4 separate regions of the Homo sapiens genome follow, and regions 2, 3 and 4 are each reported to be linked to region 1. The links are microRNA targets in miRTarBase. Many come from high-throughput screens and were not tested one by one. Region 1 holds a microRNA gene; each other region holds the end of a gene's coding sequence. Distances are between the middles of the regions.
What was found. The annotated mature microRNA hsa-miR-548t-5p reads CAAAAGUGAUCGUGGUUUUUG and lies in region 1 at 4,488-4,508, shown strand. An mRNA with a match to its seed (bases 2 to 7 or 8) in the 3' UTR can be bound and repressed. Matches are read on the target gene's strand: a 7mer-m8 pairs with bases 2 to 8, a 7mer-A1 pairs with bases 2 to 7 and ends in A, and an 8mer does both.

Region 1 (7,123 bases):
GGAACTCATGGGAACAAAACCCAAGGGTTCAAGGTTCATCAATTTATTAGTTGGGTATTTTATTATAATATCAGTATTTTGTAATGATTGCTTTTGGAATGCCAAGAATTCATTGAACAGGGTTCCCAAAAGTTGTCCATATTTTTTAAAGTCTAGAGATAGTGCTAAGATAAATATAAACACATCATAAAATAAGATCAATGGTATTTACATGATGAATACCTGTGGTCAGACATTAGTCTGATTACCTAGGTTCTAAACTGCTAGCTCATTGGTTTGGAACATCTGCAAAGCTATTCCACGCAAAGCCTTCCCCCTTTAGCAAGTTACTTTTATCAATAAGTAGTGATATACATAGACAAAATAATTGTTTTAAAGTTAGTCTTAGGACCAAATTTTCAGTAGGAAAATAATATACCAACCTGAGGGCATATTTCGATTTTTCCACCCCCTCCACCCTTCCCTTTTCAAAAGAAAAATATCTGCTATATGATACCTGAGTAAGCAGTAACTTACTGTTTGTATTCTAATGATTGTAAAACGTTAAGCAGATATATAATGGAATCAGAAGAATTCACCCAAAGCCAGAGTAACTAAGATATGAGTGGTTATGATACCAGGCAAAATGTTATAAGACAAAGCCAACCTTGCAAGATGATAAATTGTCTTATTTTTCCCATCAGTGTCCATTATAAGGTATAATGTGTGAGTCTACACACTGTGGTGTTGATTCTTGTATCTCTGTCCCAATACGGTGTGAGTTCTCTGAGCACACAGTAGGGTTAGATGGGTATTGCTCTTCCGTATTATCCTCTGAGTCTCAATTTTCTTATCTGAAAAAGAGGGAGTCGTCAATTTTTCTAACTTGTTTTAACCACAAGAAGCCCCAGAATCCTTTTTCAAGTGACTTCCTAGGCAACTCTATGCTTTTGTTCTTGGCACCTTCTTTAAATCCGTGGGCTCCTCCAACAAGTTTGGAAACCTGAGACCTAGATGTTTTCCCAGGTCTCTCTCATTTTAAAATTAAGTTTTTCTGTGTTTCTACATTCTCCCCTGGGTGTTCCACAATTGTTTCTCTAGATAAAAAAGCTGAATAGAACCAGCCAGCAAGCAGCTGGTGTGCAGCTGTTATCACTCGAGCCTGAACTTTGTGGCATGCTTTCTTTTGTGGTATTGCCTCTTCCTGCATCCTGGAGGGGGGAGTGGCTTCACAGCCCTTGGGCCACTGCCAGGTGCGACAGCTCTTTTTGGAAAATAATGATAGATGTGGCATCTATTTACTTGGCTACCTAGTATTGGTGCAGAAGCAAATGCTGCTTTGATCCCAGCACTTTAGCAACTTGCACTGTTTGGCAAAACTTGCGCTTCATGTACAAGCCACTCAACACTGTGCCCATCCTGGCAAGGAGAGCATCAGACGCAGCCAGGATACCAGGCTTGCCCTTCTTCGGTTTCCCCAGGAGCAGGCAGGGGACCAGATGGATTAGCTGGAGGACAGTCAGCCATTTTATATTGCCAAGCTCAACCATGCTAGCATTTCCAGGATATAATCCTGTTATGAGAATGTCTTCCTCTATTAGCCTTTGTTTGTGCCAGCTCCAGGGGTGGAGGAAACCCATTTTGCCTGACATACTAAGAAGTGACCTTTCCAGAGCCAGCTACTGTTTGGTGAATAGTTGTCATGGTCTTTCCCCATATCTCTGTATATACATTCATGACTTTTAGAACATAGAAAACTTATTTTTTGTTCTAAAAGCTTATCATCCCGTATATTTCCTTATCCTTTACCCTTACCAGCCTTCTCTACATGACCTCAGGTTTGTGACATGTTTAGCTCACCACCTAGCACATGGTAAGCAGCAAGTACATGCTAGCTGTTTTACTAGCAGTGATGGTGGCGTAAGCATCTCTCTCTCTCTCTCTCTCTCTCTCTCTCTCTGTCTCTGTCTCTCCACCCCCAAGACCCCCTCATTCCCCCCAATCTCCCTCCCTCCCCCACCCCCCACCCTGTCTCTCTCCCTTCTTCCTTCTCTGAAGCAATATGGGATTGTCTTGAATTTCTTCCACATGTCTTTTCAGAGTTTTTACCTTTTTCATTTCTTTTTTCTGAGTCTAGCGCTTTGCTTTCATCTCAGTCTTCAAATGGCCCAGATAAACTGCTTATCAGAATGGATGGGAGCCCAGTGCATAAGATTGCACTTTGGGAGTCACATGGTAGCTTTTAAAGGGAATGGCTTGGACGCTTCAAGAACCTTGCTCATAATATATTAAATGTGTCATAGAATTTTAGAACTGGCCAGGCTCAATGGCTCATGCCTGTAATCCCAGCACCTTGGAAGGATGAAGCAAATGGATCACTTGAGGCCAGGATTTCGAGACCAGCCTGGCCAACATGGCGAAACCCTGTCTCTACTACAAATACAAAAAAATTAGCTGGGCCTAGTGGCGTGCGGCCATGATCCCAGCTACTTAGGAGGCTGAGGCACAAGAATTGTTTGAACCCGAGAGGCGGACGTTGCAGTGAGCTGAGATAGCACCACTGTACTCCAGCCTGGGCAACAAAGCAAGACTCTGTCTCAAAAAGGAAAAAGAAAAAGAAAAGAAAAGAATTTTAGAACTGAAGGGGGCCAGAGGGGTTCCTTGGTACTGTGAGAGATCCCTCACTTTGTGGATAAGGAATCCCAAGTATAAACAGTATGTGATCATCCAGGATTAAATTAAGTGGCTGAGAAGAATGAATCCAGGTCTTCTAGGACCGACCTTTCACTATACCAGACAAAAGAGCACGAAAGTGTGTTGATCAGAGCAGTAGTTTTAATTGTAGTATTTTTGATACATTTGTGAAACATTTTATAGTAATAAAAATTTTTACTTAGGAGCAAAAGAAGTATGTTATCAATCCCAAGGTAACTCTTTTTAAATGTGGACATATAAAATTCCAATTATATGTAGAAGGGCCTCTGCTTAAATCTAAGTTGTAAGAAGTTATACTATTAATAAGAGAACAGATATAAAAATAATAAAATCCTGCCATTTTCGGCAACATGGATGAGCATGGGGGACATTATGTTAAAAATAAGCCAGGCACCGAAAGACAAGTATTGCATGTTCTCACTCACGTGGAAGCTAAAAAATTTGATCTCATGGAGGTAGAGAGTATAATGACGGCTACCTGAGGCTGGGAAGGGTGTGTGTGTGTGTGTGTGTGTGTGTGTGTGTGTGTGTGTGTGTGTGTGTGTGTGTGTGGAGGGCTGGGATGTGGGATAAAGAGGGGTTGGCTAATGGCTATAAACATACAGTTAGCTGGAAGGAATAAGTTCTAATGGTCAATAGGACAGCAGGTGACCATAGTTAACAACAATGTATTGTGTATTTCAAAAGGGCTAGAAAAGAATATTTGGGATGTTCCCAACACAAAGAAATGATAAATGTTTGAGGTGGTGCATATCCTAAATACCCTGCTTTGATCATTACCCATTATATGCATGTATCCATATATCACATGTATCCCATAAATAGGTACTATTATCATATATTAATTTTTAAAAGCCACCTTAGTATGGCCTAGAAGTAGAGGATCAGTGTTGAGGGTATGGGCAAAATTTACCATTGTACCATGCCTGTCACTTAGATCACCCTCCAGCCTGGCCCCTGAAACGCGTACCTGAATGCTAGGGAGATACACTGAAAGAGCATTCCATTAAAATGCCTGTCAAACTGAAGGATGGCAAATTTCTGTACTTGAGGGTTTGTGGACACCCATAGGCAGATTACCAGCCAGTGGCTTCTGCAGCGCCAGGAAACCATGCCTGGGCACAGACCAGCAAATGTCATCAGCAATGGCCATTCCTTAGAATAGGCACAGCAGGGGGACCAGCTTCACAGGACCAGGGGCCCCTTTGCAGCAGAGTCTTCACCTCAGCAAGCAGAGCTCACAGAAAATGAGGGGTGCTGCATGGTATCCGAGAGTGCCAAGTTCATAAATACACATGAGGTTCACTTTGGGAATCCCATACAGAGCTGAAAGAGTGATGAGCATGATATTGAGCATTTAGGGAGCTTTGGTTTCCTCTTCTAGCAATTGTGGATAATAATACTTGGCTTGTAAAGTTATTGTGGGTAACAAATGTGCTAAAGGACATAAAAGGCATATCACACATGAGCTCCACCGGTTGGAGGTCACAGTTGTTGGAGGCCACCTTCATCCCTTGTGTGGCATAGAGAAGCTTCAGAAGCTCTTTTTTCTGTATAGGCCTCTCATCATGCCAGGTGTGTGGTATTCAGCCTTATCTTTAAAATATGGTACCCTCTTCATTGTATTTCATCCTGCCGTCTTACTACAAAAGAGGAGGAGTCCTAAAGGAAGTTAGTAAATACAAAGAAGTTCTTAAGGTCAACCTAAGATAAAGAAATGCTTGCTTGTAAGTGCTGGGTGATTGAATCTATAATTTGCGTCAAGAGAAGTGAAGAAAAATGTTAGGGTGGTGCAAAAGTGATCGTGGTTTTTGCAATTTTTTAATGACAAAAACCACAATTACTTTTGCACCAACCTAACCTTGTTTTAGGCATGTATCTATTTAAAGACACTTTATTTTACCTATAACGTTGATGGGTTTACATTGAACTCAGGGCCAATAGCACTGTAACTCGCACCCAAACAAAGCTTGTCTCACGTGGATTTTCTGCACAGGACACAGCACAGCATCTTTGTGCTTAGGATACCAGGTAGCACACTGACATTATTCTCGGGAGGCTGTTTTAAACAGCAAAATTACCAACTAAAAGCACAAAAATGAGAAAATCTGTGGCACCAAACAAACTGCAAATAGGACACTTGTTTTCTCTCTCGTTTTTTTTTTTTTTTTTTTTTTTTTTTGAGATGGAGTCTCGCTCTGTAGCCCAGGCGTGGCGCCATCTTGGCTCACAGCAAGCTCTGCCTCCCAGGTTCACGCCATTCTCCTGCCTCAGCCTCCCGAGTAGCTGGGACTACAGGCGTCCACCACCACGCCCAGCTAATTTTTTTTTTTTTTTGTATTTTTAGTAGAGATGGGGTTTCACCGTGTTAGCCAGGATGGTCTCAATCTCCTGACCTCTTGATCCGCCCTTCTTGGCCTCCCAAAGTGCTGGGATTACAGGCGTGAGCCACCGCACCCGGACACTTGTTTACTCTATGAGCAGAAACAAGAAACAGAACATCCTCGTGTGCATGCCCATCAGGCATCTCCAATTGCAATCCACATTTGTGGACGTAGAATCCACAAATAATAAGGAGCCACTGAATTTTTGTATATTTAGTATGGGGCTCAGGTTAATCACAGAAATATTTACTATATAGTTAGTGGGCAAAATGCCCAGTACCCCATTATAATAAACCCAAATCTCAGTAACAGTGAAGATGTTTCTCAGAGGGGCATGGCTCCTCTGATGTTTGTCAGATAAGCATGTCTTATTATAGGGGCACTCAGACAACAGAGGCACAGAACAAAACAAAATATTTTTTGTCTGTTAATTTATTTCAAAAATGAAATCTGATAATGGCTTTTAGAAATGTGAAGACCAAAAAGCATCAAATTTTGTTTTTCCATTTAAGGAATAGAAATAAAGTGGCCGAGTTATTATTATATGTTCCGCCCATAATTCATCTTTCCTTGCTCCTTCCCACCCCTCCCCACTTTATCTTCCACCTCCTTTTATAGATACCTAACTGCTAAAATGGGCTTGGGAAGGCAGCTGGAATCATGCCAAGGTGTACCCAACAGAAGCTGCTGCAGTTAGTGACATGAGCTATGGAACACAGGAGGTCTTTTGCACTGATTGGAATATTTATTAGATTTAGTGCTGAAATAGTCTCTGCTGATAAGCAGACCTAATCTGAATTTCAAAGGTCCTTATGACCACGTAAATGTGATAGTATCATATCCTCAGGCCCCAAGTGCATCACCTTTCCTAAATGGTTGGATGCTGTATTGAATCTATTTAATATCCTGGTAACTAGCTTTGACTTTTTTCAGGAATACTTAATAATTTTAGATTTAATCTTCCCTCCTCCTCCTCCTCCTCAACAGAAGTAATTTAAATTCTTTCCAAGTAGTCATTGCACCTGTTTCTTACTTCAATCTTGGTCTCAAAGAAATATACAACAAACTCCGATAGACCACGGCCATAAAGTCCAATTTTATAATCATGCAGGAAAAGGAATGCTTCTTGAGGATCAAAAGTTGCAGTCATGATGCTAGGATGTTTCATATCCAGTAAAACTAGAGACACCCCACCTCATCAGCTGATTGTGGGAGAAGTCGTTTACAAAAGTCCTGTGAAGAAAGAACTAGATGATATAAATGTATGCATATTTCTAGAACCTGAAAAATATAAAAAGATAATCAAGTGTACTTGGACCCATAGCCACTGGTTTTAACCATTCTGCAGAAGTATAGCGCAATTATTATTGGCAATATGTGAAGATATGGATGATTTCATGGGGAAATCTTTGAAATTAAAGTGGGATAATTTGGAGGTACAGGGGAAATGTTTTTCCCTTTAAACTGTGGCAATAACCCTTGTAATTGCATGTGCTCTCCAGAATAAAGATATAGCAGATTGACATCAGCTTCAGAAAATGAGACATTAGGTACCTGAGGGATTCAGTCAAATTGCTCCTATGAAATCTTGAGTTTTGAAGATTGAAAAAAAAATGCTTGTTTTTGTGACAAGTGTTTTGGGGAATATTTTAGGGGATAATTGATGTTCTGCATTCCAATACCTTAGGTAATGAGGAAGCTGTGGAAACAGCCTCCTTTCTTTTATGAAGGCTTTCGTATTCAAGATCACCATAGAGGTCAGTGCTGTGAAGCTAATCTTGGACGCCTATCTCAATTGCTTCAGAGTATTTAGGATTTCTAAGGTTTTTGATGGATTTTTTTCATCAAAAGATATAATTTTTCCTCCACATGAAATGCTTTAAAGTGGTGATAATTAAACATATTTACTCAGTAATATTTGGAACATTATACTGGAATTCAGAAGCTCTGGCTTTCCTCTTTGGATTTATAAACCACCAAAAGTTGGCAACTGGCCCTTGTAAAAGATTTCTTCCAGCAGAGCTCTTGTATCTTTGTTTGTGTTT
Region 2 (7,123 bases), not on the chromosome of region 1:
ACTGGACTGGAAGGGTGGAGAAAAGTCGCAGTGAGGCCAGTGGCAGGAGCTCGCTCCCCTACCATCACCACCGAGGCCACTTGGGTGTCTCTCCGAATGACAAATATTGGGGCAGTGCTTTTCAAGAAGCACAGTCACATCCTTTGGTTCATTTGGTGTTCACCCTAAACTCGCAAGGTGGGCATAGTTACTCATATTTTATACATAAAAAACTAACACCCAGAAATAGGAAGTGATTAATCCGAGTTCACTAGCATCAGGTTTCCTTGGTTCTTTCGCAGGTGGTGCACTTTTCCACTATTACTGCTGGGGTCTGGGCGGGATTATACTTCAGAATTCAGACTGGAGGGTCACATTTTTTTGTTGTTATAAACCCTTCGTTAGCCTGTTTCTCTCTCTTGACCAGTCCCCGCAACTGCAGCCAGGAAATGTTTATTCTGGCCCAATGGATGTGGAACTGCTTTGAATTGTTAAGAACAGCACCGGGCAAAGCACTTCCAATAAGTTAACCCAACACATCCTCACAGCAATTCCCCGAGGTAGTTGCTGTCTTCATCCCATTTACAGTTAGTCACATAGCCAGTAAGTCCTGGAACCCAGATTTGAACCTAAGTCTTTCACTAACACAAAGTGATGATTATTTTTCAAATTTCACTTAATTTTAACGGTTCCCTCACAACTCCTTTTCCAGTCTCCCTCAGGTCTTACACTTGATTTATTCATTATGGTACTTCTGGTTTTTATTTATTTTTGAGGCAGAGTCTCACTCTGTCTCCCAGCCTGGAGTGCAATGGCACAATCTCAGCTCACTGCAACCTCCGCCTCCCAGGTTCAAGCTATTCTCATGCCTCAGCCACCCGAGTAGCTGGGCTTACAGGCATGCGCCACCATGCCCAGCTAATTTTTGTATTTTTAGTATAAACAGGGTCTCGCCATGTTGGCCAGGTTGGTCTCTAACTTCTGGCCTCAAGTGATCCACCTGCCTTGGTCTCCCAAAATGCTGCGATTATAGGCGTGAGCCACCACACCTGACCGGTACTTGTTTTTTAAAAAGTATGTGGTTTGAATCATGGTTATAAGTCTTTATAATCAGCTTGATTTTACTTTTGTACTGTCATATTTTATTTACAAAGCTTGCAACTTAAGCTTCATGTAGGTCTTTATAATGTGTTTTCTCCTCCTACCAGAAAGCAATAAAGGAGAAAGAGATTCCTATTGAAGGACTGGAGTTCATGGGCCATGGCAAAGAAAAGCCTGAAAATTCTTCTTGACCTTGACAGTCACCTTGAAGGATTTCGCAAGTCCAGAAATTGAGGACTCTGGATTTTTGTCAACTAACTCTGTGAACATAGCCATCAGATTTGATGAGGAACTTAGGAGAGAGGAGTTTTATTTCCTCCTTCGATGTTTTCCTCTCAGTTGTAAAAGATGAACTCTTTGAGATGATTTCTCACCTGCTGTGGTATCTTGCAGGAACTGTGTGCTAAAATTGAACAATTTTTTTGAGATTATGGTTGCAATACTTGGCGTGGAATCAGCTTTACATAAATATACCTTGTATGCAAACGATGATAAACTAGTCAGGATGAGCAGAGCTGCCTGACCTCTTGATTTCTGCTGCAAAAGACATATACACTGTACTGGGGTCACTATTTATGAAAGCAATTGGTTAGGACCTCTTTTTTTCCTCTCAGGGAACTAATGCTCTGAAAAGGGATCTGGGCACAACAGTTTCAGTGAGTGCTTTTGAGCACACTTTTATTTTTATATAGTAACTAATGGTTAAGATTGATGGTGGCCTGGATTAGCAAAGAGGAAGACAGCTTTTAACACAGTTCCCTGCCTTCACAAGAGGTGTCAGATTAAGATGTGAAAGCTGCAAGAATGTTGCAGTGAACACCATTTCAGAGCTCTCAGTGTGCAGTTCAGGAATTAAGATACTTGGAATAGCTGTGGAGGAAGAACCTAAATTGCAAAGATCTGCTATTGCCAGCTCTCAACCCAAGTCAGTGAATTGTCAACCTGCATATCCTAAAAATGTCAAAATGCTGCATCTGGTTAAATGTCGGGGTAGGGGGGAAGCTGAAGGTGCTCGCTTCATTTGCCTTGTTTACTCATCCTGCCCTGTAATGTCTGTAATCCTGAAGATGGAATAAATTGTAACATTTAGTTTCTATCATTATTTGCCTCTGGAACTCAGTGCATTTTATGGAACTATTACCCTGTTACCCTACAAACCTCATATATACAGTGGGGAGAGTTTTGTGTTTTGTAACTTAAAGGTGAAGAAAAAGTGACTTGTCTTAAGCTAGGTGGTACAGTATGGCAATCAGAAACCTCACATTTTTTTTTTTTGAGACAGTCTGGTTCTGTCACCCAGGCTGGAGTGCAGTGGCGCAATCTTGTCTTACTGCAAACTCCACCTCCTGGGTTCCAATGATTCTCCTGCCTCAGTCTCCCAAGTAGCTGGGATTACAGGCATGCATCACCATGCCCAGCTAGTTTTTGTATTTTTAGTAGAGATGGGGTTTCACCATGTTGGCTGGTCTTGAACTCTTGACCTCCCGAAGTGCTGGGATTACAGGCATGAGCCACCGCACCCAGCCAAAACCTCACTGATTTCTAAAATTTCCACAATAGGCTATACAAATACACTACGGTACCAAAAAAGGATCAGGAGAGCACTTACTTACCTCAGAATGTCACGTAATCCCCACAATTAATTGAGTAATTTGGTTTTATTAGATACCCAAAGTAGTATGAAACTTGAATTACAGGCCGGGTATGGTGGCTCATGCCTGTAGTCTTAACACTTTGGGAAGCTGGGATGGGCGGATCACTTGAGCTCAGGAATTTGAGACCAGCCTGGGCAACATAGCGAAACCCTGTCTCTACAAAAAAATTAGCTGGGTATGGTGGTGTGTGCCTGTAGTCCCAGCTACTCTAAAGGCTGAGGTGGGAGAATTACCTGAGCCTGAGAGGTGGAGACTGCAGTGAGCTGTGATTGTACCACTGCACTCCAGGCTGGGTGACACAGCAAGACCCTGTCTGAAAAATAAACCAAGAAACTTGATTTATAGAAGGCCCTAATTCTATTGTCTTTTCTCCACTTTACCAATTGCTACATCATATTTAATGTGACTTGTCCTTAATGTCATTTCAAAACATTCTTCATTTATATTTTATGACTGGCTAGGGTCCATTATCCAAGGATTATAAAAGATGTTTGGAACCCAGCCAAGGGAGGCCAGGCAGCAAGCTGAAGTATAATGCATCTGTCCTAAACTCAGACTGGCCACAACCAAAACAGCTCTATAGGGACTCAGAAGTGCAGGCTGTAATATTACAAAATGGCAAAGACAATGAGATTCTCTATTCCGTTAATTATTACAAAATGGCAAAGACAATGAGATTCTCTATTCCGTACTGTATATGCCTTACTTTTGCGTTACCAGTTTAATGTAATATAATATGAAATACCTTGTTGCCTCTTGAACCTTACCACGAAAGTGTTCCTTTGAGCCTTAAGAATAAACCAGCTGGCTGGGCGCGGTGGCTCACGCCAGTAATCCCAGCACTTTGGGAGACTGAGGTGGGCAGATCACCTGAGGTTGGGAGTTTGAGACTAGCCTGACCAACATGGAGAAACCCCATCTCTACTTAAAATACAAAAAATTAGCCAGGTGTGGTGGCACATGCCTGTAATCACAGCTACTCAGGAGGGTGAGGCAGGAGAATTGCTTGAACCTGGGAGGTGGAGGTTGTGGTGAGCCAAGATCATGCCATTGCACTCCAGCCTGGGCAACAAAAGCGAAACTCTGTCTCAAAAAATAAAATAAAATAAAATAAACCAGCTCTGGCCAGGCACAGTGGCTCAGACCTGTAATCCTAGCACTTTGGGAGGCTGAGGTGGGCAGATCACCTGAGGTTAGGAGTTCAAGACCAGCCTGGCCAACATGTGAAACCTTGTCTCTACTAAAAATACAAAAAAGTAGCCGGGCGTAGTGGCGGGCGCCTGTAGTCCCAGCTACTTGGGAGGCTGAGGCAGGAGAATGGCGTGAACCCGGGAGGTGGAGCTTGCAGTGAGCCGAGGTCCCGCCACTGCACTCCAGCCTGGGCGACAGAGCGAGACTCCATCTCAAAAAAAAAAAAAAAAAAAAAAAAATAATAATAATAATAATAATAATAATTGCCCTCTCAGAGTGGTTTTGTAACTACTACTACTACCATTTACTATCCATTAAAGCAGGATAGTTTTAATTCCACAGAAAAGCCAATAAGCAGAAATGTGTCACGCTCCCTTTGTTTCTCTTAAGATTTCTGACCCTACCAGCCCTGAAGGAGATTACCTCAAAGTAAGAACTTGACACATTCGAGGCCAGGCACGGTGGCTCACGCCTGTAATCCCAGCACTTTGGGAGGCTGAGGCGGGTGGATCACGAGGTCAGGAGATCGAGACCATCCTGGCTAACATGGTGAAACCCTGTGTCTACTGAAAATACAAAAAATTAGCTGGGTGTGGTGGCGGGTGCCTATAGTCCCAGCTACTCGGGAGGCTGAGGCAGGAGAATGGCTTGAACCTGGGAGGCAGAGCTTGCAGTGAGTGGAGATCGTGCCACTGCACTCTAGCCTGGGCAACAGAGAGAGACTCCGTCTCAAAAAAAAAGAAAAAAAAGAACTTGACATGTTCAAGAAAATTATGACTACAGGGAAGATTCTGCAGTAAATGCTAGTGGAATGGGACAGGAAAAAGATGAGACCCAGATCAAGCACTTCCTCTTGAGAAATACAGATACCTCTTTCAGGTGTAAATTGCAGGCATTCTGCTAGCCATTCAATGTCTTTGATATCTCAGGCCCGTCAAGGACCAATCTTTTGTTTTTTGAGACAGAGTCTCACTCTGTTGCCCAGGCTGGAGTGCAGTGGCACGATCTTGGCTCACTGCAACCTCCACCTCCCGGGTTCAAGCCTCTACACCCAGCTATAGGAGTGCGCCACCACACCCAACTAATTTTTGTATTTTTAGTAGAGACAGGATTTCATCATGTTGGCCCGGCTGATCTCCAACTCCTGACCTCAGGTGATCTGCCAGCCTCAGCCTCCCAAAGTGCTGGGATTACAGGCATGAGCCACCGCACCTGACCAAGGACTAATCTTGATGCTTAATTAGCACCACTCCACTTGGTCCCTTTATCCACATCAGGCACAATAAACCAAGAGGGGCTGTTATAAACACTTATTCAATGGGCTGAATTGGACCTGTAACACTAAACAGCAGCCTAGACCTTCACTGTGGAAACAGAAATAACTAATGCCAATTTCTTTTCAACTTGGACACTGACTTGAAGCTCAAATGCTAATTTCTGCGAAAAAACACAACCAAAGAAAGTAACTCTCAGCTCATGACCAATCTAAATTTAAGTTATTTATTTAAGCCATCTCCTGCCACAAGCAAAGGGATGGGAGACCAGTATACCAGTCATCATTTGATACAAGTAAAGAAGGTGAGCTTAAGGTCCCATATACTTTTTCTGGTCCATGTGCAGAGTAACGGTCCAAACCAGTGCTGTGGTCCCTGGTGCCCGGGTAGTGGTCCAGATTCTCTTTATTCATCTTCGTAGCCAGTTGGAAGTGGATTCACATGAGGGTTATGGAATAGAGTATGGTTACCATCTCCCCAGGGAAACGGCTGTGGAGTGAAGATGTCAGTTAGATAATTCCAGAAAATAATTTAGAAAGAACACCGTCATGAACTGCTTATAACGGGGTGACAGATCATATATAAAAACAAAATGGAAATTAGTCCTTTATCTACTGGTGTAGTTCAACCTTCCCATTATTTAAGGAGCTCTTATAACTACCAGGGGAGCCCTTAAAGTTATCCTGGCTACAGGACAGTTTTAATTCCAGAAACAAATATGGATGGCAGAAAATGCAAGCTCAAGTTAGTTACTCATCATCCTCTCCCTAGTAACTAGTATATCCAGTGCTGTGTTTATGAAAGTGTAATCCTCAAATCACCTATATCAAAATGGTGGCAGTATTAGGGGAGGGAGATGCTTAATTAAATGCAGATTTCTGGCACCATCCCAGACTTCAAACAATATCTGGGCTGGGAAACTGCAGCCCACCCTGAATTATCTTGCCTATTACCTTTGAAAAGCATTACTTTAGGGCAACGGTCTCCAACCCAGGGTGATTTTGCCCCTTCAGGGCACACTGGGTAGTATCGGGAGACACTGTGATGGGGGCGGGGGAGGGGGAAGCGGGAGTGGGGTTGCGCAGGTACTACTGCCACCTAGTGGGTACAGGCCAAGGATATGGCTAAACATTTCACAATGCACAAGATAGCCCCCCAACAAGAATTACCCAGCCCCAAATGTCAACAGTGCTGAGGCTGAGAAACCTTTACTGTTTGGCTTCTAATTGCATTGTACAAGGATGGGAGTGCCGCTCAAAGACTCAACAAATTCAAGAGTCTAGGTTAAGTTTCTACAAGGCCAGTCCTATATGGGCTAGGTGATGTAATAATAATAATAATAATAATAACTTTTTTCATCACTTCTCGGCCTTTTGGCTAAGATCAAGTATATTATTACTATTTTTTTTTGAGACGGAGTTTCACTCCTGTTGCCCAGGCTGCAGTGCAATGGCTGGATCTTGGCTCACTGCAACCTCCTCCTCCTGGGTTCAACCTCCTAGATTCTCCCACCGCAGCCTCCCGAGTAGCTGGGATTACAGGCGCCCGCCACCACGCCCGGCTACTTTTTGTACTTTTAGTAGAGATAGTGTTTCGCCATGTTGACGAGGCTGGTCTTGAACTCCTGACCTCCGGCGATCCACCCACCTTGGCCTCCCAAAGTGCTGGGATTACAGGCGTGAGCCACCGCGCATGGCCAGTATTGAAGAATCAGAATAAGCCCTTGTTAAAGATACAGCAAACAACAGAGGACACAACATTGTAATATATCTACATCAACAACCAATGATAAAACAGTCGAGAAAAGGTATTGGTGGGGAATAGAGAAAGCTGTCAGTCTCTTCATTATGCAACTAGTAGCTGCCAGATGCCCATGTTTTGTTGTTGCTGTTTTGTTTTGTTTTGAGACCAGAGTCTCGCTCT
Region 3 (7,123 bases), 100 Mb from region 1:
ATATGGATAATAGTTGAAGGTCATCACTAGTTAATATCTTTGGCCTAAATCTTACTGAAGGGATCAGATGGAAAAGTCATTAAAGTTAAGTGGAAAACTGCATAAAGAGATTTGAATAATCTGTTGTAGATGTCTAATGAGGCATCATCCTTTTTCTAAACCATGTCAGCATATTACCTTCTGTGAATTAATTTATTATTGCATTTCTTTGGATTGTTCTCTCCGCCGATTATAATACAGAGACTTTTCTTTTTTTATATTTTAAAATTGTTTATATAAATTTTTTTTTCAAATCAGGGATCCACTTAACACTATTTGCCTTTTTGACATACCTAACACATTTCTTTCCTTTTCTAGCATGATTATGATATGAGGGTGGATGATTTCCTTCGTCGCACACAAGCTGTTGTCAGTGGCCGGAGAAGTAGACCCCGTGAAAGAGACCGGGAACGAGAGCGAGACCGCCCTAGAGATAACAGACGAGACAGAGAGCGAGATAGAGGACGTGATAGAGAAAGAGAAAGAGAGCGATTATGTGATCGAGACAGAGACCGAGGGGAGAGAGGTCGATATAGAAGATAATGGGCTTTTGGAAGCACTGATTGTTTAAAGATACAAAAAATCTTGTATTTTTTTTTTGTGTGTGTTTACAAGTAGTAAATTTATTTTCAGCTGTCTGCCTATGAAGTTCATTGTGTAGAAGGATTTATTATGACCCCCTTTGTTCCAAGCATGCAGTATCATAAGAACTGGAAAAACTCAAATCCGCCAAAAATCCACAGCTGACAGTTGAATTGACACTTTTATTGGGGCAGAATGGAACAGTCCAAGAATGTAGATACTGATTCTTTCTCCATAAATGTTCTTATAGTGTGTTCATCCTAGAGTTATTTTTTTGTTTGTTTTTTTCCTTTTTGGATCTTGATTGATAACTGCCATGATATTTTGCTTTGATGTGTTTCTACATGTAGTTGCACACGGTTCAGTAAAAATAATGCTGCTATCGAGTATGCAAATATTGAAGTATGATGGTTTGACTGTATGGCAGTGTTGTAGCAGCCTCTTGTTTTTTTCCCCATTGCCTCTTTTTTTAAAAAACTTATAAAGTCACTTTTTATTTTTCCTCAGTCTTCAATGACGAGAGCAATATTAAGAAGACATTGCTATCTAATTTTTAATCTTTTTAAATGAAAAATTCCTATGTTCAGTAGCGTGGTTGATGCTATTGTTTAGCCTTCCCCTCCAAATTGTATACATTGGCTTGGAATGTTCACAACTTGCGTGCGTGGCAGCGGAAGACGATTCCCATATTCTACATTGCTACTGTTTTGTATAAAATAAATTGGTAAAGATTGACGGTTATCTTTTGTATCTTTTTCTTATCCAATTGCAGGTTTGTTTTATTATGCAATAATGGACATAAAAGCATGCTTTTTGTTCAGGAATTTTAGGAACCCCATTTGCTTTTTTTGAGGCACACTTTAGCAGAAATGATTGACCTAGGCCTGTTGCATTAAAAGCTTACTTCTATTTCTAACATAAGATACACAGAGTTATGTTAATAATTTGGTTAAGTATTTATACACCTGATAACATTTTGAGTCTACTCTGATCACAGAATCGTTTATTTAGGTTTTCTATTTGTTGTTTTAGTCTTCTGTAAGTGAACGACTTTGTACATGCTTTCTACTTTACTTCATAAATGGACTTTTAACCCTCTTGTATTAGTTCTGTATTTTAAGTTAACTGTCCAGTTCTCCCAGTGGTAACCAACTATAACATAGAAATAGAGCCGCTCAAGAAAACAGTTTATGAAATAATTTTTTTGAATTTTTTCTTGAGTTACACCTGGAGTTTTGGCCTTTGGAATTTGGCCTTTATAAACATTAGGAATATTTGAATGTTTGATTTTTTTATAGTATCAACAGTTGTACTGTGTACCAGATCACATAGTACAGTTTTACATTTAATCTATATTGGCCTGAAAAGAACAACACAGGCACTTTACTCTTAAAGGATATAATAAACTATAGTTATACTGCATTCATATTCATACCAGCATGTAGTATCTTTCCCTGCATTCACAGAAGTTTTATTTACAATGACAAAACTAAAGCCTGAGGATTTGTTTTAAATCTGCATTGTGGTAGAGAGGAAAAAGTACTTTTAAGGAAACCTGGGTTCTAGTTTTGTCATTGTCTTTAATTAAACCGGTTAGTGATACATGGTAAGTCACTTCATTGGCATTTTGTGTATTCATCAGTAAGCTAGACAAGATGATAGCTACAGTTTAAGAATTTCTGTAACCATTATACAAAACTGGTAGGTAATATTAAAGGTATTTTCCTGAAATAATAGGAATAAATACTGAGCACTTTGTATGCAATAGAGACTTTGTGCTTTTATATACAGACTCATTTAAATGGGCTCAGAGAGGCTAGTAAACTTGCCCAAGATTAGAAAGGTAGTAATTGATGGGCCAAGATTTTACCCATGTTTTTATTTGGTGTTTCTAAACCACCTCATCACTTTTGAAAAAACAGTATATAAATTAATAAATGTTTTGGAGATGGAGTCTGTCGCCCAGGTGGAGGGCAGTGGCATGATCTTGGCTCACTGCAACCTCCTGCCTCAGCCTCCCGAATGGCTGGGACTACAGGCACCCACCACCACACCCCGCTAATTTTTGTAATTTTAGTAGAGATGGGGTTCCAACATGTTGGCCAGGCTGGTCTCAAACTCGACCTCAAGTGACCTCACCTGCCTCAGCCTCCTAAAGTGTTGGGATTACAGGCGTGAGCCACTGCACCTGGCCTGAGATTTTTAAACATTAACATTTCCTTCAGGCTTAAGCAGAGGATTTTTCTAAAGTGCCATCCAATTAGATGTTAAGTTATGCTTTGTATGTTGAGCTTAGTATTGAGTCGATCTATTTTAAAAAGCCAACATTAAGTTTTTACCAAGTATCTGGCACTATTCTAAACAATTCTGTTGGCTCACATAATCATCACTGTTTTCTCCTTTCCTAATTTTTAAAATAAACTTACCGGAACATTGTATAAAAAATGCAAGATTTTTTTCTGTACAGAAGAGTCAGTATATAAAAATCAGTATGTTTTATTTAATATTCGTACACATGACAGCTTTTGTCACTGTGAGAAGACATGGTTTCTTTCGTGTACTCCACTGTGCTGTGATTCTAACAATCTACATTAGTATGATGTGTTCAGATGAAAAACAGAAAATTCAGTCATTCCGAGTTTAGAAATCCGGTCAGGGATTTTATTGGCTGGAGTAATAGTTCAAAGGAGTGAAAATTCAAGCATGTAATTTTTGGATTTGATTTCCTCCATAATGATTTCCTCCATAATGGCTTTTTTTCAAGCATGGTCTAATTTTTCAGAAAATGGCCATTATCTCCAAGCTTCCATTGTCCATGTAGTTTCAGTGGCAGGAGAGAGACTATTTTCCTCCCAGTGTCCATGTCAGTTCCCCAAAAGGACTGAATAGCCATGTTGGTTTTGGAGCCAGCCGTAATCCAATCTGTATTTCCAAGGAAATGGGGTTCTTTGTCTCCCAGCATTGGGAAGCAAGAGAGGCACATGTTATGGTCACCTCTGTGAGGATTACATCAGGAAGGACAGTCTCCAAAAGACATGGACAGAGGAAATTTAGCAGATGTCCATTAAATCAGGATCTCATACAAGTTATAACACCTGAATGTTTGACTTTTCAGAGTATTTTGCCATCACAGGTGTGGCATCTTGCCCTTGGATATATCTACATTCTGCTGTAGAATGTCGTGGTCTTTCTGAGGGTCACATACATCCTGTCTTGTCATAATGTTAACCATTAAGAGTCCTCAGGGGCATGGAATTGAAGAAGGAACTGTTGCCAGCAGTTAACTGACCAAGCTAGAGTTCCCTGACCCAACGTAAGGGTGACTGTGACACACATGGATAATTTTAGCTTCATGTTTAAGATTTTGTTATTTGGGTAGGAAACATTCCAAATGCAGTTTGAAACACATATTAAAATTGAGGCACACAGGAAAGAACTGGCTCAAGTTTAGTCCCCAAGTTCCTTATAGTAGGAATAGGAATCCTTAGAGTATAAGCAATCCATGCATAGTATTCTGTTATCTATCATGTAGATCATTTAATCTCTAATTTTTTGGGGTGGGGATTCTCTTGTTTCTAAATCTTACACTTTCAGTTTCTTCTGTGTCTTAAATATAGATTATTGACTATTGTCTTAAATACTAATAAATACATTAAATGTATCTTAAATACTACTATGTCTTAAACACAGACTATTGACTATTAAATATTTTCATTTGTAACCTTCATACTGGAGATTTGAAAGACAGTCAAAAATAATAGCTCTGAAAAGCTAAGGAATATACAATGTAAAAAAATGTAAGACTGGGTGCAGTGGCTCACGCCTGTAATCCCAACACTTTGGGAGGCCAAGATGGGTGGATCACCTGAGGTCAGGCATTCAAGACCATCCTGGCCAACATAGTGACACCCCTCCTCTACTAAAAACACAAAAATTAGTGGGGCATGGTGGCGCATGCCTGTAATCCCAGGTACTCAAGAGGCTGAGGCAGGAGAATCGCCTGAACCCGGGAGGCAGATGTTGCAGTGAACCAAGATTGTGCCATTGCCTTCCAGCCTGGGCGACAAAGCAAGAGTCCGTCTCAAAAAAAAAAAAAAAAAGTAAGTTATGGCAACAAAAATATAAATTGTTGGGAAGAGGGTAAAAATCTAGAATAATTCTATATGATCTGTGTTGTTACCAGCTTAAAATAGTGTATTACAACTGTAACATTTTATGTAAGCCCATGGTAACCACAAACCAAAAAATTACAACAGATACACAAACAATGATAAAGGACAAAGCTTATTAGCACTACAGAAAATTACCATATCACAAAGGTAAACAACAAGAGAGGACGAAATGAACAAAGAATCTACAAAACAACTAGAAAACAATTTTAAAATGGCAAAATAGGTCCTTACCTATCAATAATAACCTTGATTTTAAATGAATTAAATTATCCAGTAAAGAGTGGTTGAATGGATTAAAAAACAATGTAACTGAGCTGCCTAAAAGAGACCCACTTCAGCTTCCAGAACACACAAAAGTTGGAAGTATAAGAATGGGAAAATCCATACAAATAGTAACCAAAAAAGAGCAGGGATGGCGTAATATACATTAGATAAAAGAAACTTCAAGGTAAAAGCTGTTACAAAAACAAAGATGGTCATTAATGATAAAGCGGCCAATTCATCAAGATGACATAAGAATTATATATGCACCCAATAACAAAGCACCTAAATACATATAGAAAGTATTGGCTGGGCGCGATGGCTCACACCTGTAATCCCAACACTTTGGGAGGCTGAGGCGGGCAGATCACCTGAGGTGAGGAGTTTGAGACCAGCCTGACCAACATGGCAAAACCCCATCTTTACTAAAAACACAAAAATTAGCTGGGTGTGGTGGTGGGCACCTGCAACTCCAACTACTCGGGAAGCTGAGACAGGAGAATCTCTTAAACCTGGGAGGCGGAGGTTGCAGTGAACTGAGATCACACCATTGCACTCCAGCTTGGGCAACAGAGCGAGACTCCATCTCAAAAAAAAAAAAAAAAAATGTACGTGAAGGAAAAATAGATAGCAGTACAATAATAGTTGGTGATCTTAGTACCCCGCCTTAAACACTGAATAGCTCAACTAAACAGAAAATTAAGCAAATACTGGGTTTGACCAAATGGACCTAACAGACATACAGAACTTTCCATCCAAGAACAGCAGAATATACATTTCTTTTCTAGTGCACATACCACATTATGTCTCAAAAAGCTAGAAAAAGAACTAAAGCCAAAGTTAGCAAAAGGAGGAAAATAATACAAATCAGTAAAACAGAGAACAAAAACACAGAAAAAAGCAAAAAAGTAATCTTTGAAAAAATAAGATCAGCAAAATACTAGCTAGACTATGACAAAAAGAGGAAAGACCCAAATAAATAAAACCAAACATGAAAATGGAGACATTACACCAGATGCCTCACAAGTAAAGTATTATAAGGCCTATTATAAATATATGCAACAAATTGGATAATCTAGAAAAAAATAGATAAATTCCTGGAAAAATATAACCTACCAAGATTGAGTCAGGAAGAAGTAGAAAACTTGAACCAATCCAACAAATCAGTTGAAGAAGTCATTAAAAACCTTCCAACCAAGAATAGCACAGGACCAGAAGGTTTCATGGCCAAATTGTACCAAATGTTCATAAAAGAATCTATCAATACTTCTTAAACTCGGTCAAAAAGTAGAAATAGAGGAGATACTTCCAAACATTTCATGGCATCAGAATCACTTTCATATCCAAGGCAGACAAAGACACTGTAAGAAAAGATAGCTATAGGGCAATATTTCTAATGAACATTGATACACTAATCTTTAATAAAATATTAGCAAACAACTAAACAACACATCAAAAAGAACATACATCATGACAAGTGAGATTTAACCCTGGCATGCAAGCCTGGTTTATCATATACAATCAATGTGACATGTGAATTATGAGAATGTTAAAAACCACATGTTCCTTTCAAATGATGCAGGAAAAGAAGTTAACAAAGTTCTGCATCTTTCCCAATAAAGACTTTCAAGTATAGAAGTAAAGTTTCTCAAAATAGTAAAAGTCATTTATAAAAAACACACACAGATAATATTACATCAGTGGGGAACGACTGAAAGTTTTTCCAGTAAGATCTGGTATCAGGGGAGGATTCTCACTCTAATCACTTCTATTCAACATTGTACTTGAAAGATTAGCAAGAGCAATTAAATAAGTAAAAGAAATAAAAGGCATCTAAATCAGAGGTAAAACTATCCCTATTTGCAGATGATATGATCCTATATGTTGAAAACCCTTAAAGATGCTTAAAAAACACTGTTGGAGTAAATCAGAAAAGTTGCAGGATACCAAATCAACATGGAAACAAAAGTAACATTTCTATAGACAGATAATCACCTAACTAAAAAAGGAATCAAGAAAACAATCCCATTTATAATAGCACCCAGAAAAACAATACATTTAACCAAGAA
Region 4 (7,116 bases), not on the chromosome of region 1:
CCTATCAAAGTCAACCATGTGGCAAAGAATTATACCCACTGAATTCTTACCATTTACTCCTCTATATTTTCAGGACCTCAGGCTCTTAGGCAGAGCCATGAGACTACTTAGGGCCAATGAAATGGGAGAATAGACACATGGCACTTCCAGGCTGAGAAAGAGAAAAGCTCTTTTGCCATTCTCAGGGCATTTCCTTTCTTTGCCCCAGCAACCAATATTAACGATGAAAGTTCCAGGTGGTGCCACTTCAAGATGGTGGAGCCTCTGTCAGCCTGGATCCCTGAAAGACTATGTGGAACAGAGCCATAATAGATATGTAAGTGAATGAGAAACAGACCTGTGTGTTATGAAGCCATTGAGATTTCAGGGTTAATATGTTATTTAAGTATAACTTAACAAATCACATTCAAGGTACATAGCTCTGTGTTCTGAAAGTCTGTTTTGAATTTCAATAAGTAAGTGATGAATTACTTAAAATTATTCTCTTTGGAGACTCAATAAAAAAAAACATGCTATGGCTCTTTAAACTATACTCCTAAAACTTTACACATAGAACATTCTGCTTCAATGTAGAGTTAACAGTTAGGTAAGGAGTTAATGATGTAGGAGGGGTGGACAATCGCATTGGTCTCATTGCTTCATCCCTTCAAACAACAAAGTTCTAGAAACAATTTCATTTCAGTCCAACACACTTTATTCATTTTTAACTTTTTTCTTAATTTTCAATAATCAAGTATTCAAGATGCTGTAAACCAAGATTAGTACATCGACAACAGATTTCATTAAACACACGGAAATTATACATCTTTTAAATTACCTTAAAAAGTCTCCAAATGAATATCATTTTAAAAATCACAAAATCAAACTTCTTTATGCAACAGTGCAAAACCTTTCATCACAAACATACCTCTACACAAAACACACACACACACACACAAACACACACTCCACTAAGAACCTAATGCCAGTTTAGTTGACACAGTATTACATTTCCTTAAACAAAAGAGTCAGAGCCTGACTTGCCTGTTTCAGGATTCTAAATTAACATTTGGGGTTTGGGGTAGAGGTATGTATTTTAAGAAAAATGCCCATTATTTGGTACTACTCTTACCAATTATCAATTACCAATTGCCAATAATCGGTACTAGTCTTACCAATGATTCTTATTTTTCATTTCTAGATACAAACTTTAAACCTCTTTTGTTCACCCCTTTGGTTTAATGTGTCCCTGCAATTACTTTAGTTTCAATAATATTTTCTCCTTCAATTTTAACATGTAGTGATAGGATACCAGAAAAGATAACACCTTCAAAACCCCAGTGTTAAAAATACCTTACATGGGTGTAATCTTTTTGGAGAAGAAATAAGAAAAGGTTACCTGAAATATTTTTTCTACCTTTCTCTGAAATTATTTTTGGCATCTGATTATTCTTGCTAAAATAAATATCAAAAGCACTGAGTATTCCATAGAAAAGTATCCCCCCTTTCACGCTTCATTTTTGCAGCATAGATGGAGTAACTGTTGAAATGAGAGTAATGGATGCTTGTTTTCTGGAAAATTCTTCAGATTTCCAAACACAAAGTACATGCAGCCACTTAGCAGTGAAATACTGTGAATTCAGTGGCGCTTTTTAGTGGTGAACATGCGTCATTAAATACTTTTTAGCACCAAGGCATTTTTTTTAATGTTGCAAAAGCAAACACCTAGGGAGGGTTTTTTGTTTTCTGTTTTTTGTTGTTGTTGTTGTATTTGACCCTTCCTAGAGCTGAGTAAAACTGAAGTCTTTAAAATAAAACCTCCTCAAACATACACAGATCTGATTCTAATGCAACAAGAAGTTTGGGACAGATACAGCCAGCAGCATCCCAAAAGATGAAGAAGAGAAAAAGACAAAAAGATAAAGTGCATGAGGCAACTACCTTTGCCTGCCAGCCGCAGCACTCTCTTATTATGGAAGAGAAAACACAAATGTGTGGAAAGGCTACCTACTGGTCTGTATAACAGAGAACTAGCAAACCTGCAGTTTAGGCAATTCTGGGATTATACAGTATTTTGGTATCTATCTGCTACTTAGAATACTCAGTATGCACCTACATATCAATAGTTATATTCATGTGCTGTGTCATCTCTGATGTTTTAAGTACATACACGATCACAAAATATAATTGGCTACCACCCGAGGCTTGGGCTTGCCTCCTGCTCCTGGGTGCACTAGGGAATTCCCATCAATGCTTCAGCTCCATCCAAACTCTAAAGTTTCTCTTTGGTACATGCACGGTTTCTACAAAACAGGGCCAAAAAGACACTTTCTGGCTCCAAGTGCACCAAAGAGCGCAAGCTGGAATTGTGGACTGAAGAAGAATTTTCTTGGTGGTTGGTGAACATGGAGGACCACCATGACATCCATGAGGCCTTACTCCATGTAACTCCCCCTTCTCTGAAGGCTGACATTTCCAAGTGCATGCCACTAAAGGTAACAATGTCACAGCGACTAAAGGGAACAATCGGGATCAGTGGTTTGATATGTATTTTATGTGTGTTCACTTAAAACCCTTATTAGGAATCTTAAAACTCATATTCATCAAAAAACTAATAGAGATGTTAATATTCTGAAAGAGGAAAATAAAAAAAAATACACTTGAAATCCCTAAAGCTCAGATTCAACAAATCTGAACTACCTTTCTTCATAATGTTTCATTTCAGAAACTCTGCCGAGACCCGATGTTAACACGAAGACTAGATTTGTTCTGTATTAAATATGAACTATAAATAAATATTTGAGGTATGTTATGACAAATAACTTTAATATAACACTTAGCTAAATAAATGTAAATTTACCTTGAAAATCTAGTTAAACATTAAATCTTGATATTTCCTACAGATGTTTCCTACAGTTTTTTTTATTTACACAAAAAAACCTCTCTACTCTTCATAAACGGTAATATATCAAAAAATTGAAATGCTTTAATCTCACGATTTTATAGTCACCTTGCCTTTGTTAACCAAAAGCTATTGTATACATTGCGTAGTGTAAAAAATGAATAATGGAGTGAGAGAAATCTATGTCTGAATCCTGACTTTACCATTCTGTATGATCCTAAATGAGTTATTTTACTTCTCTGAGTCTTGGTTTCATATGTTTTTTAAAAAAATAATAAAATCAGCCGGGCATGGTGGCTCATGCCTGTAATCCCAGCACTTTGAGAGGCCAAGGCAGGTGGATCACTTGAGGTCAGGAGTTCAAGACCAGCCTGGCCAACATGGTGAAACCCTCTCTCTACTAAAAATAGAAAAAAAATAGCTGGGTGTGGTGGCACACACCTTAATCCCAGTTCCTCAGGAGACTGAAACAGGAGAATCACTTGAACCCAGGAAGCGGAGGTTGCAGTGAGCTGAGATTAAGCCACTGCACTCCAGCCTGGGTGACAGAGCAAGACTCTGTCTCAAAAAAAAAAAAAGAATCAAATCTTTGCAAGGTAATTAAGAGGATCAAAATGAATGATGATGTATATTAAGTGCTTGTCAAAATGCTCTACAAATCGTCAACACTCAACAAATGCTAATTTTTTTCCTCTCTGTTCCTCCTTTCTCTCCATCCCCAACACCTTGACTCTGAATTACTTTTGAATATTTTCAAGAATTAAATCCACCTATAAAGAATAAGGACTTAATGCTAATGAAAATAACCAAAGAATGCGCTCCAACCACCCATCTTACCTCCTGGGAGTTTCTAAATTAATAGGATGAACTCAAGGATATTGTATTTGCATATTAAAGCTAAATAATATATGAATTTACAGTTTATAAAGGACAAGATGACCTTTTCCAAAACAAGTAATTTGAAGCCTAAGCTCATGGAGAGTCTTCATTAAAACTTCTAATAGGAGCTGTGACTATAAAGTAATGGGATCAATTTATTAAGAAACATATAAGACCCTATATATACAATTAAATGGTATCATCTACAAAACAGTCACTTCAGTTGGCTATGTAATATTCCAGTGATGCTACCATAGCCCCAAGTATTTTGTGAACCACTCTTAATTGGTACATATTCCAAAGCTTTATTTTCTCATGATTTTTACTACTTAGTCTACATTCACCAACAACACATTAATGAAATACCTGCTATTTATAAGGAGCAGATACTTGAGGAAGTACAATATTAACACTGTGGTGCACATTTCAGGCCCATTTCTTTGAGTTCTGGCCCAATCATCCCAAAGGATTTTATGGAGTGGCAGATGGTAATCAGGTAATATGACACCTGAAGATACCTGGCACCTGATCAGTGATCGCCAAACTGGATGACTGTTCATGGCAGCAAAGGGAGTAAGGGGGCTCTCTAACTACTCCGTGCTGAGTCCAGCAATCTTAGCTACCAGAAAAAGTGCCAATCCCACCAAAATTCTCTCAATGCAGTATCTTAATGATCAGAAGAAAATTAAGAAAACACCACACCTCTCCAATCTACATATCTTTAACTCCCACACCAAAGGAAAATTTCTCCTTTAAAGGATCAGAGCTCTCCCATAGAGGGTAAAGGGGAACCCTGAGGCCCCAAAGGAGACACTAGTTCAATCAGCAAGGTTTTCTTAATCAGCAAGATTTTTTGAATACTTCCAATATATGCCACATTGGCCAGAGTCTGACAATTACCAGTGCAATTACAGTCTTAACCAAGCAAGAATCCTCACCTCCCCGAGAGCCAAGCCCAGGAACCAGAGGGAAGTCCTTAGCCCCTGAGACCACTAGCTCCACCCCTTGTAGACATTGTTCAGTCTAACAGTGTTAACACAAACTGTATGCAACCAAGAGAACTGTTTGACCAATGTCATTCCTAGGAAGAGAGGGAAACAGCCTTATACCCAGGAGTATTTGCACAATTCCACCTGTGCAGTCAAGCAAGGTTGGAGAGCAGAAGCCTGAATCATGGAACAGTCTGTCAATCACATCTCTTCTGGGGATAAGGGTAAACCAGAAGAGAAAAACATTTCCCTAATTAGCCCTCCATGACCATAGGCTCCTTGGCAGAAAAAGTTCACAATTATATCAGCATTTGGCCCTTACACTCCCTGGCAGCCAGAACCCCTGAGCTAACTTGCTGTCAATCCGTTAGCGCCGTCAGGAAGCATCTATCTTAAGAGCCATGTAGAAAGCATTCTCTATGATGCTTACTTCAAAGTGATGTGCTGGGAGGTACTGAAAAGAATGATGGGTAATGAACCCAAAGTGCATTTAGGAACAGAAAAATCCTCTCTCAGAATCACTGCCAGAAACTTACAGTAAGGGGGAATCAAAGGGTAGTGTAAAACGATTCTATCTCTGATAAAGTAGGGTTCTTTCGGATGGACTGGTTTATTTTACATAATTTTCAACAATTACTTAAGATCATATTCTGTTCCAGAACACAGATCTCCCTCCTCCTGTATTCTAAGTGATTTTCATATCCCAGGCACAGATTTCCTGATATAAGTATGCATTTTCAGGAGCAACCACAGCAATTTTCTGTCCAGAAAAAAAGAAAACCACACAGATTTGCCAGTGCTTTCAAGATGTAACTAAAATACTCAGGTGGGACTTTTCCCAGTGACTTTGTGGGCCCGTAGAGCTAAAGAAAATTTCTGCAACAATTTTCTTGGATGAGAAAGCTGTCATTTTCTTTCCCTATTATGCATTTCAAATTACAGTTTCTAGCCATATTGTTTAGCACACTAGTTTTAATGCTCCTTACAAAAGAATACTGGAGTTTATATTTAAGCTATCAGATTTATGATTCAGCAGCCTCTTTATCTTAGGATGGGGCAGGCAGACTGAAAGAGAATGTGTCCTACGACCTGAAGTAGCTGTTCCTTCTATCACACTATGCCTATGGTTCCTCTGAAGCATTTGAAAAACTCTACCTGATTTATAACTGCTATGGCTTAAAATGCTATCAACAGTACTGGATGGAAAGTTCAGCTTCCTCTTTTCAGAAACATATCTGCTTTATTCCGTGAAAGTAAATGTAACATGCTGCACATACATTTTTCCAATCAAATTGCATAGTTGAGACAAATTCATTTGTGCTTTGTAGCAGAACTCACAGTAGGTGTTCATATCTAAAAACTTTGATTTGGAAATGCCAAGTCCTGGGCAAGCTCACCTTTGTTTGGAGTGTTAGTTAATGATATGCACCGCCATTCCCCTTCCCATGGTTTTGCTAACCGTGTACCTCAGCCTGTACCGTAGGGGAGCATGAGCTTTGAATTAACACAACGGAAATGGGAACAAATCTAGCTGAACGTCTCCTTCTTGGAGAGAAGCGGGGAAAGGCTCTCAGTCTTGTTGAGGTATCCAGCCCTCAATGAATAGCGGCTGTGTATACTGAGTTTTGTTGGTTTGAGGATTGTGTCTGTAGAGGTTAAAAAAAAGAAAGAAAGAAAAGAAGGCACAGTTGTTTCTCAAGTCGCCATTTTCAATTCAACCAACAAAACTAAATTCTTCCATTTTCAAGCTTCAGGAGGGCGGCTCCAAGGCAGCGGGGCTCTCTTCCAGCCCCGGGTCCGCAGAGGAACTTATTGCTTCTGGGAAGGGCCCCGGGTAGGTCTGTGCTGCGCACTGGATCCCTTTTTGCAGGCCAGTCTCTTCGTGGAATTCTCCCTGGGTGCTGAAAGCTGGGCAAGATCTAGTCCGGGCATTGTCGGGGTGTCCCACTCTCTCACTCACGGTGCTCAGGGGAAATTCTCTCTGCCTCCGCCTCTGCAGTCCATCCTCCTTGTATTTTATGGAGTACCAGGCCAGAAAAATAAAAATAAACCCAACGAATTTGAGGCCGGCAGCCAAACCAAAATACACAAAACGAAACGACGTCACGTTGTACTCCCAGCAAGAACCCTGCACACCACATTCCTGTTGCCAGAGCATGCAGGTGGTGTCAATGACTGCTCCAAAGTAGATTGGAGTAGGAATGTATGCTAGAGGGGTGGAGAAGAAGAAAATACGAAGACTTAGCACATCTTCCAAGGGAAAACAGGTTTGTAAATTAGCAAGGTACTTGTGTGCTCTAAAACCAGTTGAGGGGAGGGATTTTCTTGTGTTACCAGATTTTTTTTAAGACGCATCATATTTTATCA

Region 2: the mRNA of TRIAP1 is a reported target of hsa-miR-548t-5p. Seed matches in the 3' UTR shown: 8mer at 1,754-1,761.
Region 3: miRTarBase lists YTHDC1 as a target of hsa-miR-548t-5p. Seed matches in the 3' UTR shown: 8mer at 799-806, 7mer-m8 at 1,109-1,115, 7mer-A1 at 1,707-1,713, 7mer-A1 at 2,163-2,169 and 7mer-m8 at 2,527-2,533.
Region 4: the mRNA of SLCO5A1 is a reported target of hsa-miR-548t-5p. Seed matches in the 3' UTR shown: 7mer-m8 at 4,388-4,394.

Annotation. Positions count from the first base shown.
Region 1 is chr4:173,263,682-173,270,804 of GRCh38, forward strand. It overlaps MIR548T (microRNA 548t), which reads left to right and starts at 4,479; the gene lies at 4,479-4,552. The region is part of intron 2 of GALNT7 (polypeptide N-acetylgalactosaminyltransferase 7); the gene reads left to right. LOC124900812 (a long non-coding RNA gene) reads right to left here. Exons shown (of 3, transcript XR_007058367.1): 2 at 647-7,123.
Region 2 is chr12:120,439,020-120,446,142 of GRCh38, reverse strand. TRIAP1 (TP53 regulated inhibitor of apoptosis 1) reads left to right here. Exons shown (of 2, transcript NM_016399.3): 2 at 1,188-2,179. The coding sequence ends at 1,271. It overlaps COX6A1 (cytochrome c oxidase subunit 6A1), which reads right to left. Exons shown (of 3, transcript NM_004373.4): 3 at 5,413-5,689. The coding sequence ends at 5,606. It also overlaps the pseudogene LOC124903126. Among named protein-coding and RNA genes, the nearest start is that of TRIAP1, 3.8 kb to the left of the region's middle. RefSeq lists enhancers at 1-4, 1-418, 1-577.
Region 3 is chr4:68,307,558-68,314,680 of GRCh38, reverse strand. YTHDC1 (YTH N6-methyladenosine RNA binding protein C1) reads left to right here. Exons shown (of 17, transcript NM_001031732.4): 17 at 358-4,294. The coding sequence ends at 582. Among named protein-coding and RNA genes, the nearest start is that of YTHDC1, 39 kb to the left of the region's middle.
Region 4 is chr8:69,666,370-69,673,485 of GRCh38, forward strand. It overlaps SLCO5A1 (solute carrier organic anion transporter family member 5A1), which reads right to left. Exons shown (of 10, transcript NM_030958.3): 10 at 677-6,957. The coding sequence ends at 6,500. Among named protein-coding and RNA genes, the nearest start is that of SLCO5A1-AS1, 160 kb to the right of the region's middle.